3 separate regions of the Homo sapiens genome follow, and all the other regions are linked to region 1. Evidence: fine-mapped expression QTL. A gene starts in region 1. Each other region holds a variant in brackets. All regions are shown on one strand. Distances are from middle to middle. Region 1 holds the start of LY86 (lymphocyte antigen 86). Region 2 overlaps LOC101928004 (a long non-coding RNA gene). Region 3 overlaps LY86 (lymphocyte antigen 86).

The links. PIP is the estimated chance that this variant, and not a neighbour inherited with it, causes the effect. A credible set is the group of variants that fine-mapping cannot tell apart.
Region 2: its variant is the best candidate, but not a certain one, in a credible set for the expression of LY86 in whole blood (TOPMed, PIP 0.85).
Region 3: its variant is the best candidate, but not a certain one, in a credible set for the expression of LY86 in whole blood (INTERVAL, PIP 0.61).

Annotation. Positions count from the first base shown.
Region 1 is chr6:6,585,996-6,590,227 of GRCh38, forward strand. It overlaps LY86 (lymphocyte antigen 86), which reads left to right and starts at 2,725. Exons shown (of 5, transcript NM_004271.4): 1 at 2,725-2,875. The coding sequence starts at 2,740. The region is part of intron 1 of LY86-AS1 (LY86 antisense RNA 1); the gene reads right to left. RefSeq lists enhancers at 1,022-1,111, 1,122-1,251.
Region 2 is chr6:6,743,360-6,747,636 of GRCh38, forward strand. All of the region lies in intron 2 of LOC101928004 (a long non-coding RNA gene), which reads right to left. Among named protein-coding and RNA genes, the nearest start is that of LY86-AS1, 120 kb to the left of the region's middle. The variant C/T (reference allele first, on the strand shown) is at 1,685.
Region 3 is chr6:6,609,931-6,613,930 of GRCh38, forward strand. The region is part of intron 1 of LY86 (lymphocyte antigen 86); the gene reads left to right. The region is part of intron 1 of LY86-AS1 (LY86 antisense RNA 1); the gene reads right to left. Among named protein-coding and RNA genes, the nearest start is that of LY86-AS1, 11 kb to the right of the region's middle. The variant A/G (reference allele first, on the strand shown) is at 2,043.

The DNA of each region.
Region 1 (4,232 bases):
TCTGAACTAGACGGCCATAACTAATGATTTCAATCAAATCCCATTTTCAGTAGGCAGAACTAGTAAGTAGAATTCCTTAGAGAATGTGGCTTACTCTTAATCCTATATGGGTATGTTATATATGTGTTATATAAAATGCCATCTGTCATAAAACAAAACATTTTATTAAGAAGATTTTTTTTAATTGTACATTCTGCAAATGATCAAATTCTGTAAGCTAAACCAGAGGTCCTCAGAATGTGGCCCCAGATCAACAACACTGGCATCACCTGGGAACATGTTAGAAACACAGGTTCTCAGGCCTCACCAGACACACAGGAGCAGAAACTCTGGGGTGGGGTCCAGCAATCTGCATGTTAACAAGCCCCCCAGCTGACGCTGATGCCCTGAAGACCACTCTAGCCTGAAGACCAATGTCCTAGGGTCACCATGATCACAAGGTTCCTGATTGGTCCATTTGGAATATTTCTAAATGCTAGTGCGATCCCTGAATTATGATTCCTTTCATTTCCAGGTCTTTTGATTCTCAAGAATCTGTACCCCTGTCTTCAGATGACACTGTTTCTGCAATAAAGCCAATGTTTGTGGCCCTGCCCAAACTCATATGTTGAAATCCTAAGCCTCAAGGTGATGGTATTAGGAGGAAAGGCCTTTGGGAGGTGATTAGGTCATAAGAATGGAGCTCTCATACATGGGATTAGTGCCTTTATAAAAGAGGCCTAAGAGAAACCCTTCGCCCCTTCCACCATGTGAGGGCACAGCCAGAAGGCACCATTTGTGAACCAGAGGCCCCTCACCAGACACTGAATCTTCTAGCACCTTAATCTCCAACTTTGGACCTCCACCCTCCAAAATGGTGAGAAATAAATGCTTGTCATTTAAGCCACCCAGTCTAAGGTATTTGTTATGGCAGCCAGAACATACTAAGACCATTTCCCTGCCACAGCTGCCCACAGCTCTCTGCTAGGTTTTCTGCTCCCTGCCCTGCACTCCTGGACTCCTCCTCCAGTGTCAATCATGACGCACTTTGCAGGGAAGGAAGTTCTCACCCTCAATTGCTCTCCTCACTCACATATGTTCAGAGCTCTCTTTACAACTGCTGGAGCACTCACATATCCCAAGGGAAAGCTTCTGTGTTCCATCCTGGACCTTCTAGGGGCTACCACGCTTCCACCAGGGCCGCTGCTCTCACCATAAGCTTCAGACTCTCATCTCCCGAGATCTTGCTCACAGCGCAGCTGCCTTCCGCTCACACAGGCCAGAGGGGCCACCTTGTCTCTTCTTAGAGCAACTTCCCACCACTCCCTTGGGGCTCAACCTTCGCTTTATGTTCTGTAAAAGCCAGCAGTTCTCAAACTTGAGACTGCATCAGGCACACCTGGAGGGCTTGTGAAAATCCAGAATGGTGAGTCCCGCCCCCCAGAGTTTCTGATTTAATAGGTCTTGAGTAGCCCAGAATTTGCATCTCTAACAAGCCCCCAGTGGAAGCTGAGGCTGTCATCTTCCCAGGCCGCACTTTGAGAACTGCTGTTGAAAGCCATCATCACTGAACTTATTTGCAGAGGTACCTAAAAATAATCAATCCACAACTGTTCCTTCTCCAAATGACCACTCTCTGATGTCTATCAAGAAATCCAAATTATTTACCAATTAATTTATTGGTAATTATGTTCCACCTATTTCAAAAAAAGTTTTGAGCTAACTCTAATTTTTGCTTAGCCATCAGCAGAAATAGTAAATTTACCTAGTGCATTCAGAAAAATGCTGTTCCTCCCAGGGAAAATAGTGTTTTCTATTGCTCCTGAAATCTGCTGACCTTGGCACTGACTCTGGTCCTCTTACATTAAGGTGAAGCTGGGGCGGGGTTGAGGAATCAAGACTGAGAAACCTTGCTGTCCTGCAGCAGAATAGAGATACATGGAAGAAGGAAGACAGAATCTTGGCTTTGAAGAGAAAGTGAGATGTGATGTCAATGATCCCACTAACACCAAAACCAGCAAACCAGCCTCCTTAAGGGTGGCCCCACCTCCCCACCCTTCCTACTTTTTCTACCAAGCCAAACCCAGAAATAGAACACGGCTCACTTCTCAGGGCTATTGCCTCTGCCTCATCTCCAGAGACCACATCTGCAGCTCCCAAAACAAGGTCTGTTCTGCAGCTGGACAATTCACTGCTAAAATCCCAAACCTAAGAGCAGAGCCAAAGCCAGAGGAGAGGAAAGTGACAATAGGGCCAAAGCCTCATTCCAGATTCCAAATGTCATTCTGTAGCCCTCGTGCTATCAACTGCTGCCTGCTGGCTGCAGCCAGGTCCCTGGGTCCATACACAGCCTGCATCAAGAGCCTGCAGAGACTCGGGGGCTGGAGATGGGAAACAGATGGTGGCCTGCGCTTTGTCTTTCCCAAGTTTACAGCCTCACCTGGGGGTGGAGGCTGTTCTGAGGGGCCCCCAAGAGGTAAGTTCACGCATCACTACTGACCCTCTCCCTGTGAAAGCAGAAAGTCAGCACGCATCCTACCCCAGACCAGACCAGCCACACCTGTAGATTCAAGGTCCTGGGGGAACAGTATTCAAATGCCTCTGCTCTCAGCCTTTTACTTCTGACTGTGGTTCCCAGCGAGTCTAAAATTTGAGAAGTGAAACTGAACATCCAACTGCCTTGGTGAGGGGAGAGGAAGAAATTTTACAGGCTTTTTATTGGCCGGTTATTTTTCTGTGTGTCCCATACAGGCCCCCACCATGAAGGGTTTCACAGCCACTCTCTTCCTCTGGACTCTGATTTTTCCCAGCTGCAGTGGAGGCGGCGGTGGGAAAGCCTGGCCCACACACGTGGTCTGTAGCGACAGCGGCTTGGAAGTGCTCTACCAGAGTTGCGGTAAGCCCTTGCAGTACACCCATGTGTGTTTATGGGGAAAGCAAGGCCCACAGATGTGAGCCGCTAGTGCTCAGTTGGAGTTGGGGTGGGAGGGGAGAGGGGACCAGCAGCTGAACACTTTCTCCACCTGCAGCAGGTCTGGGAGGGCCACTGGGAGCTTTTGGAAGAAGGAGCGGTGGGGCCAGGACTGGGAGCGGAAGAGAATGGCAGAACAACAAAGAGTACAAGAAAGAGAAATTGAATCTAAATATAGCCATTTACTAACACCACAGAACCCAAAAAAGAACAAAATGATCAGTGAGTCTACCAAATCATCAAACCTCACCAGCTGAAAATTAGGAAAAGCAGCTTCCAGTAGGCCCTTCCTCAACACCGTACACCTGGGCTACCTTTCCATCTGATGTACTTTGCAAGTGAAGTGAAAAGATCACTTCTGCCCAAAGAGAAGATTCCTGTCCCTCTCTGGACACTTTCAGAGCTTTCACTGCAGCAGTAGCTCTCATGAATTCAGCAAGCACTTCGCATGCAGCTATCAATGCCAGGGTTTCTCAGTGCTAGAGATAATAAAAGTGCATATGCCAGGCCTGTCACCCCAGCGGGCCAACCCAATACGCCAACAGATAATTGCAATTCAGTGAAGAGAATGCAGTGAACTGTGGTAAGAAGTGTCAGAACCAACCAATCGGGCTGTGTCTTAGTCAGCTAGGGCTGCCATAACAAACCACCACAGGCTGGGGACTTAAATAACAGATTTATTTCCTCACAGCTCTGGAAGCTGGGCTGGTTTCTCCTGAGACCTCTCTTCTTTGCTTCTAGGTGGCATCTTCTCCCTGTCTCCTCATGTGCTCTTCCCTCTGTGTACATCTGTGTCCTCATCTCCTCTTCTTATAAGTACACAATCATATCAGATTAGGGCCCACCTCCATGGCCTCACTTTAGCTTAATCAGCTCTTTAAAGACCCTATCTCCAGCAGGGCATGATGGCTCACACCTGTAATCCCAGCACTTTGGGAGGCTGAGGAGGGTGAACCACTTGAGGTCAAGCATTCAAGACCAGCCTGACCAACATGGAAAAACCCTGTTTCTACTAAAAATATAAAATTAGCTGGGCATGGTGGCACGCGCCTGTAATCCCAGCTACTTGGGAGGCTGAGGCAGAATTGCTTGAACCCAGGAGGTGGAGGTTGCAGTGAGCCAAGATCGTGCCATTGTACTCCAGCCTGGGCAAGAGGAGCGAAACTCTGTCTTAAAAAAAAAAAAAAAAAAAAAAAAGACCCTATCTCCACATACAGTCACATTCTAAGATACCGTAGTCCCCCCCCAGTCTGCTAGGAATACGTTCCAAGACTCCCAGTGG
Region 2 (4,277 bases), 160 kb after region 1:
CATGTGCCAGTAACTGGGCAAAGCGATGAGAACACAAAAGCAAAAAGGAGAGGCTGTGTCCTCCTTCAGGTCTCATGGCCCTGGCAAGCAGGCAGCCGAGTCCCCGCAGGTGTTCACGCACGTGCAAATGCCTGCCGACTGCAGAGTACGGAGCCAAGAAGTGGCAGAGGATGGAGACCAGAGGCAAAGCAAGGATTCAGACCAATGGCCAGCCCTGTCGAGACCCAGGCTGGGAAGCCAACACCAAGTAGGAGGTTAAAGTACTGAAGCCAGTCACCGAGATAGAGTCAAGTAGGTTTGGAGTAGACGTTGAGGGCAGCACCTGCAAGATTCTTTCAGGTACAGAAAGGAGCCTGTGTTCTCCCCATAGTTGGGAAAGGAGTTATTAGAACTACTATTACTGATTGAGGAACTCTCGAGGCAATCTAAAACACCATCAACCTACCATTATTTGGTGTACCACTAAGTAACAAATCCTAAAGTATTATGACACACCACCAATGTTCCACGCATTTCAACTTCAGAAATGCTAATAAAAACCAGCGTGTATCTTACAATCAATGAAATACAGTAGTGGGGCATAAATACTTTGGTGAAATATTTGAAGGGAAAACGGATACTGACACTGAATTGCCAGAATAGATTAAATAACGTCACACTGGGACACACTTATCACGTTGGGAATCCTGGAAAACCATCGAAACAGGCAGGGCACAGCAAAAAGAATGAAATGGTGGTCTCTGGCTCAGCCATCCTAAGAGTGAAATTCATCAGTTAGGAACCCTTATTAACTTGGTGTCTATTCCTCCATTCTTTCAGTGTCTTCTTTCTCAAATCATATCTATAGGGGGAAAATGCATTATGAGCACCAAAATGTGAAAAAGTGCATTAGTTCTGTGAACTTCTGTACCTGTGATCCCTTTCCTCATACATGTATTGTCTCCTACCCACGGTTGGGTTGACTTCCACTGGAGTGACACACACATAAAGACACAATGTCAAAAATAAGTAGCTGTATTGTTCAACACCCATAAGCTTGGGCCTGGTGGATGAATGGCCGCAGGTGGGAAGTAGGCAATAGTTAGGTCTCCTTAGAGAGACAGGTATGGCAGAGCTACAAGTTGAAAACAAGATTAAGACCACCTGCATGGCGAGACTTAACACACAAAACTGATGAGCCATGAGGAATGCATGTTTTTAAACAGACTGCACCAGTACAAACCAGTCTATCCTACAGGGGCTAATGGCTGGAAAGCCACAAAAGGTCACTCCCCTAGCACCAGTAACATCAGCTAAGATGGAACACTGGCAGATCTACTACTAGCAGGATTAGAGAGAATAGTAGTTAGGCTAAGCATCACATGATCAGTCTGCCGGCCCCAGGCCTTCTACCCTAGTTTGTTCTCTAGGGTATCCTACCCACAGCACGGGCCACGCAGAACAGGGCTGAAGGATTATGGGTTTTCTTTACAATCCTCCCCAGCTGTCAGAAACTGCCCTTATGCCCGACAATAATCCTACATTAAATCACCCCAGCAAACCAAACCCTTATCTAGGCTGGACCACCCCAGACTTACCCTGTGTGTTAAACTTTGGAAAGCTTTTGGTTTCACTGATTTCAAGAATGAATCCATAAACCCTTGGGGTGAGTGTTACAGTTCTTAAAGACAATGTGTCCAAACTT[C/T]GTTCTTTCTGACGTTCAGACGTATTCAGAGTTTTTCTTCTAATAGTAGGTTCACGCTCTCACTGACTCAATAGCCAAGCCGCAGACCTTCATGGTGTGCGTTACAGCTCATAAAGGGAACATAGACCTAAACAGCAAACAACAACAAGATTTACCGCAGAACAAAAGAACAGAACTCGCACAATATAAACACACACCACAAAAGAAAACCGACCAGGTTATAATTGCTAGCGCGGCAGCCTGCTTTTATTCCCTTATCTGGCCCCACCCACGTCCTGCTGATTGGTCCATTTTACAGAGAGCCGATTGGTCCGTTTTGACAGGGTGCTGATTGGTGCGTTTACAAGCCCTGAGCTAGACACGAAAGTTCTCCACGTCCCCACTAGATTAGCTAGATACAGAGTGTGGATTGGTGTATTTACAAACCTTGAGCTAGATACAGAGTGCCAATTGGTGCATTCACAAACCCTGAGCTAGACACAGGGTGCTGATTGGTGTGTTTACAAACCTTGAGCTAGATACAGAGTGCTGATTGGTGTATTTACAATCCCGTAGCTAGACTAAACATTTTCCAAGTCCCCAGCAGATTCAGGAGCCCAGCAGGCTTCACTCAGTGGATCCCACACCGGGGCCGCAAGTGGAGCTGCCTGCCAGTGCCGCGCCCTGTGCCCGCACTCCTCAGCCCTTGGGTGGTCGATGGGACTGGGCGCCGTGGAGCAGGGAGCGGCGCTTGTCGGGGAGGCTTGGGCTATGCAGGAGCCCACGGCGGTGTGGGGGGAGGCTCAGGCATGGTGGGCTGCAGGTCCCGAGCCCTGCCCTGTGGGGAAGCAGCTAAGGCCCGGCGAGAAATCGAGCACAGCAGCTGCTGGCCCAGGCACTAAGCCGCTCAGTGCCCGGGGCTTGCGGGCCGGTCCGCCGCTCGGAGTGCGGGGCCGCGGAGCCCACGCCCACCCGGAACTTGCGCTGGCCCGCAAGCGCCGCGCGCAGCCCCGGTTCCCGCTCGCGCCTCTCCCTCCACACCTCCCCGCAAGCTGAGGGAGCCGGCTCCGGCCTCGGCCAGCCCAGAAAGGGGCTCCCACAGTGCAGCGGCGGGCTGAAGGGCTCCTCAAGCTCTGCCAGAGTGGGCGCCAAGGCCGGGGAGGCGCGGAGAGTGTGTAAGGGCGGCCAGGACGCTGTCACCTGTCAATTTCAGGGGCTTAGAGGAAGGCTTCACCTCCCCTGCAGCTGAATGAAAGCTGCCACGTCCCACTTACCCTCTGGGGTCGGATCTAGAGAGTCCCCGGGGCTGCTCTACCACACCATATTCCCTAGATCTTTCTGATCACTGCATGTCCCCTGCGAGGGGGTCTGCACATCTGCCTGCTGGGGGCTGGGAGTGACCGAGAGCCCCAGCTCCCAAACTAAGACCTAATCCTGAGTGTGCAGAATGGCAGGTCTCAGATGCAGAGCCACCGCTGGCACAGAGTAACATGGAAAATGCCTGGCCATGGCAAAAGTGCATTCTGCTCGGAGTATCTGGCAGGAATCGTAATCAGGGCAGAGGCAACTGCATTTGTGGGGAGAAAGTTTGGGGCGATGCAATGTCCTGAGCAGCTTCCTGACCCCCGTCATCGCCGTCCTTGCTTTGTGCCACCACCCTTGAAGATACCCCTTTTTGTGGTTCTGTGGGAGCTGCTGCAGATAAGGACGGGGTGTCGGTGTCTGTTTCTCCTCAGCCGCTCTCAGCGAGGTCACTGGGTGCCAGAAATGGAAACATAAATGGCAGCTGCTGTCCTGAAAGCAGGTGGCTGCTCTGACCGGGGAGGGAAATGGCTTGGGGACTTACTCATGCAGCCTGAGAGCCACAGAGTAGGAATAAGCATGCAACTGGTGTGTGTGGGCACGATTGTGTATGCCTATTTCTGCATGTAAGTTCCAGAGCTGTGAGCTCACACACACAGGCACACAGATACACACAGGAACACACAGACACATGCACATGCATGCACAGACACACACAGACACGCAGAGACATAGACATATACACACAGACACAGAGACATACACACATATAGACAGATGCACACATACAGACATACACACAGACATGCACAGACACAGACACACACATAAGCACACACAGACATACCCAGAGACACAGACACACGCACACACAGACACTGACACACACAAACACACGCAACACAGATACAAACACACAGAGATACAGAGGCACACATATATTTATATATACACAGACACACACATACACATGCTTACTCACATAGCACACACATACACAGAGACACATGAAGATACGCACATACCACACGTATGCAGTCACACATAACACATGCATCTCCCACCCCATTGGTGGTGTCCACAGGGCTGTCCGGAGAGCAAGCAATCAGTAAGTGTTTGTTGGATACTAAGTGAAGGATGAAATGACTGAATGCACCAGTAGGTGAAATGGATGCTTCTGCTTGCAGGGCAGGCTCTAAGATTTGAACAGCGGCATGGCAGAAGCATCGCCACAAGTGCTGATGAGGTGATGGCTTAAAATACTGCAAGCCCCATGCAGAGTGAAAACTCCTTTCACGGGAGGAGATAGACG
Region 3 (4,000 bases), 24 kb after region 1:
AACGTTTGCACTGGCAAGGAAGGGTGCTGGCCTCTATTTTTGTAGAAACAGGGTCTATGTTGCTCAGGCTGGTCGTGAACTCCTGGGCTCCAGCGATCCTCCTGCCCAGGCCTCCCAAAGTGTTGGAATTACACACATGAGCCACCACGCCCAGCCAGGATCTGTATGGTGGTGCTTATACGCAGTAACCCTGCATAGAACTACAAGAGCGAACACGTGCGTGCGTGTGAAAACCGCTAAAACCTGAGTACAGTCTGTAGAGTACACCAGTGTCAATGACTAGGTTTTGATACGTGGTTCTGTAAGATGTTACCATGAAGGGAAGTGGGTGAAAGTACACAGGGCACCTCTGTACTCTTTGTGTAGCTTCCTATGTCTATCATTATTTCAAGATAAAAAGATTTTATTTTAAAAAAATGGCCTGAAGCTCTTGAGCCTGAGGCTACGCATCTCCCTCTGCCTTTATGACCCACAGTGCAGGCCCTGAGCCCCCAGAGTCTGGGCTCCACTGCCCTGGCCTCTGGGGCATCTGAGAAGCCTGGTACAGGAAGGAAGCATGAAGCTTAAAATAGTGCTCAGTTCCTCCTTTTACAAGTGAAGAAACGGAAGCTTAGGGGGGGGCAAGGTGAGTGCTAGCTGATGCCCTGATTTACTGCCTGAGTTACATGGAAGCTTCTGTCCCTAGGAACATACCAAGACAGTCTGCCCTAAAATGGTCAAGCTAGAAGGCCAAAGCGAGGGAGGGCTGGGGTTTTGTTTTGTGGGGTGTGTGTGTGCATTCTCATGTGTGTATTTAAGGGCTGCAAAGGACATACTGGTTTTGATGTCACACTATGAGCACAAATGGTGTAGAAATTCTATTCCACAACATGAGCGATGTTCAGCAAAGTCAGTAAGAAGGTGAGCATGTCTGAGCTTACCTGCAAGATGAAGGCCTGTGATGACGGTGGAAACTCTTTCTGACCCCAGCAGCCACAGAAATTTGTATTTTGCCAAGGAAGGCTCCTTCTTTGAAAATATATAGGAAGAAGACAGAAGTCTACCTTTCTGATACCACTTTAAGCAATAGAGGAAAAGAAAATTATCTTGTTTTTCCACTGTCCTTCCAGGGGTGATTCTAGGACCGTTAAGATCTGGCCGTGTCTGAGCAAACACCAGCCACCTCCGACCTCCAGCCTTTCAAAGAAACAAGCTGGACTGTTTGCATTTATATGATTCAAAATGAAGGTCACAAAAGCACAACTGACTTGATTTTATGAAGAGCTTTTGTTGACAAACGTGAAGTTCCCAGAATACACAGTCTTTGGGACTTGAGTTTTTTTGTATATATTATTCTCTGTGCCTGAGTTGGTAGAAAAGAGCCTACATAACATAGGCTCCTACTCCAGCCCAGTACAAGGTTTTCAACCTGCACACTTTCCATAAACCCTCTCTGCCTCAGTTTTCCCAATTCTAAAACACGGATGATAGCATCTCTCTTAAGGCTTTTGTGAGGATTTCAGCTAATACATACGTAGGGCTCAGAACAGGACCTGCTGTGGAAAGAGCTATAGAAGTGATCACTGTTATTACACTCATCTGTAATTACTGCAAGTATTTGGAAATATATAGGAATATACTTAAGATGAATGGACACAAAACCGCCTCCACAGCTTCCAAGGCAAAGCGCTGCTACCTGTCCACCGTGTGGCAGTTCCTGTCACCCACACTGGTGCCTCCCTGTTCTCTCACCGCACCTTGTGGCTACGCTGCGCGCCGGTCGTGTTTGTCCCCCCTTTCTCCTGAAAGTCAGGGGCTATGCTTAAGACTAAATCACCTTTGTATCCCACATCTAGCACAGTGCCTATCAAACAGTACGGGCTCAAAAAGCTTTAACAATCGGACCGATAAAATAGCAGGGCTTTTGTCTCTCCTGTCAATCTAGCATCTCTCCTTCCATTTTTTCTGCACCTACCAAAAATAAGAAAAAAATCAGACTGCTGCTGTGTTCTGCCAGCTGCTCTTAACTTCCAGCACGTGTCCCAAGCAATCTACTTGAAAGG[A/G]TATCTACCCCCTTAACTGAGTACTGAACACTATGAAAATAATCTTTGTGGTCTCTTGTATTAGGAGAGAGCAAATTGAAGATGTTAAAAAGCCAATGTATTAGCAAGATTTGAGAAGATCCAAAAGCAAGCTGATTATTTCCAAAAATCAGCTCAACAACTCCTAAGATTGATAGATGTGTCCACAATTTGGGGGTTCTTGGTCTCACTGACTTCAAGAACGAAGCCACAGACCCTCACAGTTAAGTTCTTCAAGAGGGCGTGTCCAGAGTTTATTCCTTCTGATGTTCAGATGTGTTCTGAGTTTCTTTCTCGTGGGTTAGTGGCCTTGCTAACTTCAGGCGTGAAACTGCAGACCCTCGCAGTAAGCATTACACTTCTTAAGGTGATACATTTGGAGTGTTAATCATTTATTTTCCCCCAGTGGGTACCTAGTCTCACTGGCCTCATAAAAGAAACCGCAAACCTTCATGGGGAGTGTTACACTTCATAAAAGCAATGCAGACCCAAAGTGTAAACAACAAAAACACTTACTGCAAAAAGCAAAAGAACAAACCAACCACACAAAAGCAACGAAACAACCAGTTGTCACTAGTGGAGCCTGCAGCCTGACTTTATTCTCTTATCTGGCCCCTCCCACATCCTGCTGATTGGTCCATTTTACAGAGAGCCAATTGGTCTGTCTTACAGAGAGCTGATTGGTCCGTTTTGACAGGGTGCTGATTGGTCGCGTTTACAATCCCTGAGCTAGATGCAAAAGTTCTCCAGTTCCCCACTAGATTAGCTAGATACAGAGTGTTGATTGGTGTATTTACAAACCCTGAGCTAGACACAGAGTGCTGATTGGTGTGTTTACAAACCTTGAGCTAGATACAGAGTGCTGATTGGTGTATTTACATTCCCTTAGCTAGACATAAAGGTTCTCCAAGTCCTCACCAGCTTAACTAGATACAGAGTGCCAATTGGTGCATTCACAAACTCTGAGCTAGACACAGGGTGCTGATTGGTGTGTTAACAATCCTTGAGCTAGATACAGAGTGCTGATTGGTGTATTTACAATCCCTTGGCTAGACATAAAGCTTCTCCAAGTCCCCACCAGAGTAGCCAGATACAGAGTGTGGATTGGTGCATTCACAAACCCTGAGCTAGACACAGGGGGCTGATTGGTGTGTTTACAATCCCTTAGCTAGACATAAAGATTCTCCAAGTTCCCACCAGACTCAGGAGCCCAGCTGGCTTCACCCAGTGGATCCGGCACTAGGGCCGCAGGTGGAGCTGCCTGCCAATCCCGCGCCGTGCGCCCGCACTCCTCAGCCCTTGTGCAGTCTAGGGGACGGAGCGCTATGGAGCAGGGTGGCGCTGCTCGTCGGGGAGGCTTGGCCTGCTCATAAGCTCACAGCGGGGGAGTGGGGAGCGGGAGGAGACTTCAGGCATGGTGGGCTGCAGGTCCTGAGCCCTGCCGCGCCGGGAGGCAGCCAAGGCCCGGTGAGAAATCGAGCACAGCAGCTGCTGGCCCAGGTGCTAAGCTCCTCACTGCCCGGGGCTTGCTGTCAGGCCGGCCGCTCCGAGTGCGGGGCCCGCCGATCCCACGCCCACCGGGAACTCGCTCTGGCCCGCAAGCGCCGCGCGCCGCCCGGGTTCCCGCCTGCGCTTCCCCCTTCATATCTCCCCGCAAGCTGAGGGAGCCGGCTCCGGCCTTGGCCAGCCCAGAAAGGGGTTCCCACAGTGCAGCGGCGGGCTGAAGGGCTCCTCAAGCGCGGCCAGAGTGGGCGCCAAGGCCGAGGAGGCCCCAAGAGCGAGCGAGGGCTGCCAGCATGCTGTCACCTCTCAATAGGGCCCCTTACTTTCCCTGCCTGATGGTTTATCCGCCTTCCTTCAGTCACTCCTCGAACACTTAACCAGCTCCCACAGTGCAGTGTAAAGAGCGAAGCAAGGTGTTGCTAGAGTGGGGAATTCAG